2 linked regions of the Homo sapiens genome follow. Changing the gene in region 1 together with any one later gene gives a genetic interaction. Each region holds a gene or a part of one and is shown in the gene's direction. Other genes may lie near its edges.

Region 1 (3,500 bases):
CTTGAGACCAACCTGGGCAACATAGAGAGACCCCAACTCTAAAATATACATACTATATCTAAACTCAGCTAGGCGTGGTGGTGTGAGCCTGGAGTCCCAGCTACTCAGGAGGTTAAGGTGTGAGGATCACTTGATCCCAGGAGGTTGAGGAGGCAGTGAGCTATGATTGTGCCACAGTGCTTCAGCCAGGGTGACAGAGTGAGACCCTGTCTCTTAAAAAAAAGAAAAGAGGCTGGGTGCAGTGGCTCATGCCTGTAATCCCAGCACTTTGGGAAGCCAAGGTGGGCAGATCACGAGGTCAGGAGTTCAAGACCAGCCTGTCTAATATGGTGAAACCCCATCTCTACTAAAAATACAAAAATTAGCCGAGCATGGTGGAGTGCGCCTGTAGTCCCAGCTACTCGAGAGGCTGAGGCAGGAGAATCGCTTGAACCCGGGAAGTTGGAGGTTGCAGTGAGCTGAGATTGCGCCACTGCACTCCAGCCTGGGTGACAAAGTGAGACTCCATCTCAAAAAAAAAAAAAAAGAAGAAAGAAAAGCAAAGCAAAGCCCAGGCCTGTACCTACTAGAGGTCCTGATAACTTCACCACTGAATTCTATCAAACATTTCAAGAAAAATTAATACAGTTCTTCACAAAGTCTTCAAAAATGAAAAAGAGGAGAAAATACTTACAAACGAATTTTATGAGACTGGTATTACCCTGTTGCCAAAAACCAGGAAAAGACATTACAAGAAAAGAAAACCATAGACAAATATATCTTACAAATGTGGAAGCAAAAATCCTCAACAAAAATACTAGCAAACTGAATCCAGTAACATATAAAAATAATTATATACCATAAACAAGCAGGATTTATTCCAGGAGTGCAAGGTTGGTTTAACATCCAAAAATGAATTAGTGTAAATAATGTAATGCATTATATCAATAGAATAAAAAACAAAAATCACCTTGTCATCTCAGTAGACACAGAAAAAGCATTTGACAAAATTCAGCATGTTTTTCATGATAAAAACACTAAATAAACTAAGAAGAGAAGAGCAGTTCCTCAACCTGATACACAGCAGTTATGAAAAACCCACAGCTAACTTCATAATAGTGAGACTGAGGCCAGGCACAGTGGCTCACGCCTGTAATCCTAACACTTTAGGAGGCCAAGGTTGGAGGGATCACTTGAGGTCAGGAGTTCAAGAACAGCCTGGCCAACATGGTGAAACCCTGTCTCTACTACAAATACAAAAAAAAATTAGCCAGGTGTGGTGGTGCATACCTATAATTGTAGCTACTTGGGAGGCTGAGGTGGGAGGATTGCTTGAACCTGGGAGGCAGAGGTTGCAGTGAGCTGAGATAGCACTACTGCACACAATAGGCTGGGCGACAGAGCTCAAAACAAACAAACAAACAAACAAAATAGTGAAAGACTGTATGCTTATCCTTAAGATTAGGAAAAAGAGAGATAAGTCTACTTTCACTACTGCTATTCAGCATTGTACTGGAGGTTCTAGCCAGGGCAATTAGGCAAGAAAATGCAATAAAATACATCTATGTTGGAAGGGAACAAGTAAGATCATCTCTGCAGATGACATGATCTTGCATATAGACCCTGAGGAATCCACTACCAAAGTATTGGAACTAATAAATTATTAGTTTAGTAAGGTTATAGGATACAAGATCATTACACAAAACTTAGTTGTAAATGTATCCACTTGGAATGAACAATCTGAAAAGGAAATTAAGAAAATTCCATTTACAATAACCTAAAAAATAAAAATACTTATAACAAAAGAGGTATCTTTTTTTCCATCCTCTGACAGTTTAGTAAAAGAAAGTATAAAACTTATACTCTAAAAGCTGTAAAACATTTTTGGTTTTGTTTTTTAAATTAATTTTTTTTGAAACGGAGTCTCACTCTGTCGTCCAGGCTGGAATGCGGTGGCGCGATCTCGGCTCACTGCAACCTCTGCCTCCCAGGTTAAAGCGATTCTCCTGCCTCAGCCTCCGGAGTAGCTGGAGCTACAGGTGTGCACCACCATGCCTGGCTAATTTTTGTATTTTTAGTATAGAGGGGGTTTCACCATGTTGGCCAGGCTGGTCTCGAACTCCTGACCTCAGGTGATCCACCCGCCTCAGCCTCTGAAAGTCCTGGGATTACAGGCGTGAGCTAGTGCGCCCAGCCTGGCCTTTTAAAATATTTAATTAATTGATTTTTTTTTTTCTCGGACTTGCACTGAAGTGAGAACAAGTGCAGTGGTGCAATCATATCTCAGTGCAGCCTAGACCTTCCAGGCTTAAGTGATCCTCCTATATCAGCCTCCCAAGCAGCTCAGACCACAGGCATGCGCGATCATCCCTAGCTTTTTTTTTTTGTTTGTTTGTTTTTTAATTTCTTGTAGAGACAGAGTCTCCCTGTGTTACCCAGGCTGGTCTTGAACCTGACCTCAAGCAACCTCCCATGTTGGCCCCTCAAAGTGCTGGGATTACAGGTGTGAGCCACCGTGCCTGGCCTGTAAAACATTTTTAAAAGAAAGAAGATATAAATAAATAAATAAATAGAAAATAGCTCTTGTTCATGGATCATAAGACATAACGTTGTCAAATTGGCAGTATTTTGGAAATTGATCTACACGTTTGACATAATCCCTGTCAGAATCCCAGTTTATTTCATTGTAGAAATTGACAAGTCTCCAGGCGTAGTGGCTCATGCCTGTAATCCCAGCACTTTGGGAGGCCGAGGCAGGCGGATCACCTGAGGTCAGGAGTTCAAGACCAGCCTGGCCAACATGGAGAAACCCTGTCTCTACTAAAACTACAAAATTAGCCGGGTGTGGTGGCACATACCTGTAATCCCAGGTACTCGGGAGGCTGAGGCAGGGAATCGCTTGAACCTGGGAGGCGGAGCTTGCGGTGAGCTGAGATCACGCGCCACTGCACTCCAGCTTGGGCAACAAGAGCGAAACTCCATCTCAAAAAAAAAAAAGAAATTGACAAGTCAATTCATAAATTCCTATGGAATCGCAAGGGACCCACAATAGCTAAATCTTGAAAAAGAACAAAGCAGAAAGACTCACGCTTTGTGATTTCAAGACATACTATAAAACAACTAATCAAGACAACGTCACCAGGCACCGTGGCTTATGCCTATAATCCCAACACTTTGGGAGGCCAAGGCAGGCAGATCACTTGAGGACAGGAGTTCGAGACCAGCCTGGGCAACATGGCGAAATCTTGTCTCTACCAAAAATACAAAAATTAACCGGGCGTGGGGGTGCACACTTGTAGTCCAAGCTGCTTGGGAGGGCTGAGGCACAAGAATCCCTTGAACCCAGGAGGTGGAGGTTGCAGTGAGTCGAGATCGTGCTATTGCACTCCAGCCTGGGGGACAGAGCGAGATTCCATTTCAAAAAAATAAAAATAAAAAGACAGTGTGGTACTGGTATAAGGATAAATGTGTAGATCAGTGGCATAGAATTGAGAGTCCAGAAATAAACCCAGTGGAATAGA
Region 2 (2,964 bases), on another chromosome or scaffold:
AAATAAAAAATTAGCCAGTTTTGGTGGTGGGCGCCTGTAGTTCCAGCTACTTGGGAAACTGAAGTGGGAGGATCACTTGAACCCGGGAGGCAGAGGTTGCAGTGAGCCAAGAGGGTGCTGCTGCATTCCGGCCTGTGGGACAGAGGGAGACTCTGTCTTAAAGAAGCTTCAAAGTTATAAATGGGAACTTTTGCCTTCTGATACATAATGTTTGACTGTTTTTTTCCCCTTTTCTAGAATCTGAATCTGAAGCTGAAGAAGGTGACTGAATTTTGAAACTACACCCTCAGTAAAGCAAACAGGAGTTGTAGATAAAATGTCATGTCTCATGTGTCCTGGTTCTTACATCTTCCTACCTCCCTGTATCAAGCATGATATAAGGGCTTTCATGGCAAATTTTATTTTAACTGTTTCTATGGTTGCTGGAAATGTTGGGTTTAGTTTCTAAAACCATGTTTTAAGTAGCTACAGGAGCTATAGATTTGAATCTAATGTTGCATTAGTCTTTTCAGTTATCTTCTACCTCCTGTATTTTCTACTGTAATAATGTAATTTAAGGCCTTCCACAATGAACAGTTCACTTTATTCCCTGGGTTTTCTATAAACAGTTTTAAGGATATGATTTGGTTAAAAAATAATTTGTTATAAAAATTCTGTTTGCAAATTAAACTGGAAAAGTATCCAGAGTCTCAAAAGGCAATGATTTGTGAGATAATATGGCATGCCCGGAGCCCTGCTCATCAATGAAAAACCCATATGTAATAATCGAATTCATTTAACATGAATCTTGAGTACGTGGACCATTGCTTGCATGTTAACTTTTTGTTTTGTTTTGTTTTGTTTTGTTTTGCATTTTTAACTCCAGATATCCTAAAGCTCAATTGTTTGGTCTCTGGTTTTCATCCTTAGAGAAGCCATGGAGAACAGACTTGAAAAGTTTAGGAAATCATAATGTGGCAGAGGTGGTGGGAAGAAGAAAGTTGAGCTTTTTCCCCTTGAGAAACTTCTGCATTTAGTTTCTATCTTTCCAGGCAAAACAAATGGGTATTCTTTTCATACAACCATTTTCAAATGAACCTTAGAAAAGTCTTAACATTTAAGGTATTTTATGCACAGAATACACTTAGATTGATAGGAAAGAACTCGTAATGGAGTTTGAGTAAAGAAAATGACTGATGTACTAAACCCAGTAAAAATTGTTGAAAATGTTAAAGGTCAGCATGTTCTAATTGGGAATCTAGATATAGCTTAGATTTCCTATTGGCTTAGAGTATTTGCTATAACAAATGAAGTGCAATGACAATTATATATTCCTACTCGGTCATACTGGACTGGCTTCGTTCTCTTAATATACTCAGTAATGACTCAAGCCTCTGGCTATTAACATACCCTAGTTGCCGTTTTTTAATTGCCATGAGCCAAATACTTCTTGGTATACAATTGATCCATTTATTTTAATGGCTGCCTTTTCATTTTCATCTTTTCTTGCTGCTACCCATCTATGTATGTAGTCATTGGGGGGAAAATGTAGCCACATTTTTTATGGGAAGACTTTGTGTTAAAAGTGAACATTTTGAAGGTTTTTAACTGGTGAAACTAGCCTGGAATAATGCCACCAGAGACTGAGTGGAAATCGCCCCTTTTGAAGGTGCCATTCTTATGAGCCAAAAGTTTGTCATTTAAAAGTTCATTTTGAGGGAATAACATGTAATATAATTTGAAATAAAGGTATAGTAACCTTAAAAAGAACATTATAACTGATTGTTGTGAATGGGGTGAATTTGTTAAAATGAGTAACTTTGATAAAGTTTTTCATGCACAGGCAAAATGTATTCACTAGATTTCTACGTAGTGATCTGCTTTTACTTTGTAATTTGTAGTTCTCAAAAGACTTTTTTTTAAAAAAATAAAGTCCATACTTACACTTAGGCTTTATACATCAGTCTTTTTTTTTTTAAATTCCATGTTAATACCTAGTGGTATTGTATGTTGTGTGTTCAGATGTCTTTACTGTATCTGTATACCATTAAGTAATAATTAGACTCCCAAACTGTAAACCACCTACACAGAATTCTGGTGTAGCTAAAACTACATTAATATTTCTACAACCAATTCATTGCATGTTTCTTCCATACAAAGTGTGCCATTTTATACTGTGTATAGTGAAAAAGTGTGTCATCTTCCAGAACTACATTATTATCTTTGATCGTAGTTTGTTTCTTCATAATGACACTGTAGTGTTTACTTAGTAGAACATTATAGTAAGTGGATATCACTTGTGACAGTAATAGTGTAAAGAAAGGGAATGCTTTATAAAAAGATTGCAGATTCCATTCCATATAAAAAGATTCCATTCTGAATCTTAAGTGGTAATTTTAGAATTCAGGTGCCAGTGCCAGCCTATGGCCTCAAGTATGTAATTCTTAATATAGATGTTAAATTGTACTTTTAATTATGATTGGATAAATGTTTTTTCTAACTGTCAGTTTCTAAGGCTGTCTCCTTAGAAACTAAATGAGTTTTTAGAGCTGGTTGTAAGTTTCTTAGCCTTACTCTGTGAGTTATAGATGTTATTTCATTCTATATATAGATGTTTATTCCATTCTTATTTAAAAAAAAAAACCTCCATATACCAAAAATGCTACAGGATATTTTGAAATAGCATATTTTAGTTAGGGGAAATGCATGTGACCAAGAGGTTGGACTTCTAATTCAGTTTTTCAAAAGCTTTTTTCCATTATCATACCCCCAGCCTTTTTAGGCTTTTTTTTTTTTTTTTTTGAGACGGAGTCTCGCTCTGTCACCAGGCTGGAGTGCAGTGGCGCGATCTTGGCTCACTGCAAGTTCCGCCTCCCGGGTTCACGCCATTCTCCTGCCTCAGCCTCCCGAGTAGCTGGGACTACAGGCGCCCGCCACCATGCCCGACTAATTTTTTTGTATTTTTAGTAGAGACGAGGTTTCACC

The links. Genes that interact genetically often act in the same process or in processes that back each other up.
Region 2: changes in NF2 (region 1) and BZW1 together harm fitness more than expected from each alone (negative genetic interaction), as found in Homo sapiens cells (one large-scale study listed by BioGRID).

What each region holds. Positions count from the first base shown.
Region 1 is NC_000022.11:29,610,133-29,613,632, forward strand, and holds part of NF2 (merlin), read left to right. Parts: intron 1-3,500. UniProt on the Homo sapiens protein: Probable regulator of the Hippo/SWH (Sav/Wts/Hpo) signaling pathway, a signaling pathway that plays a pivotal role in tumor suppression by restricting proliferation and promoting apoptosis.
Region 2 is NC_000002.12:200,821,910-200,824,873, forward strand, and holds part of BZW1 (eIF5-mimic protein 2), read left to right. Parts: intron 1-237; coding exon 238-269; 3' UTR 270-2,964. UniProt on the Homo sapiens protein: Translation initiation regulator which represses repeat-associated non-AUG (RAN) initiated translation probably by acting as a competitive inhibitor of eukaryotic translation initiation factor 5 (EIF5) function.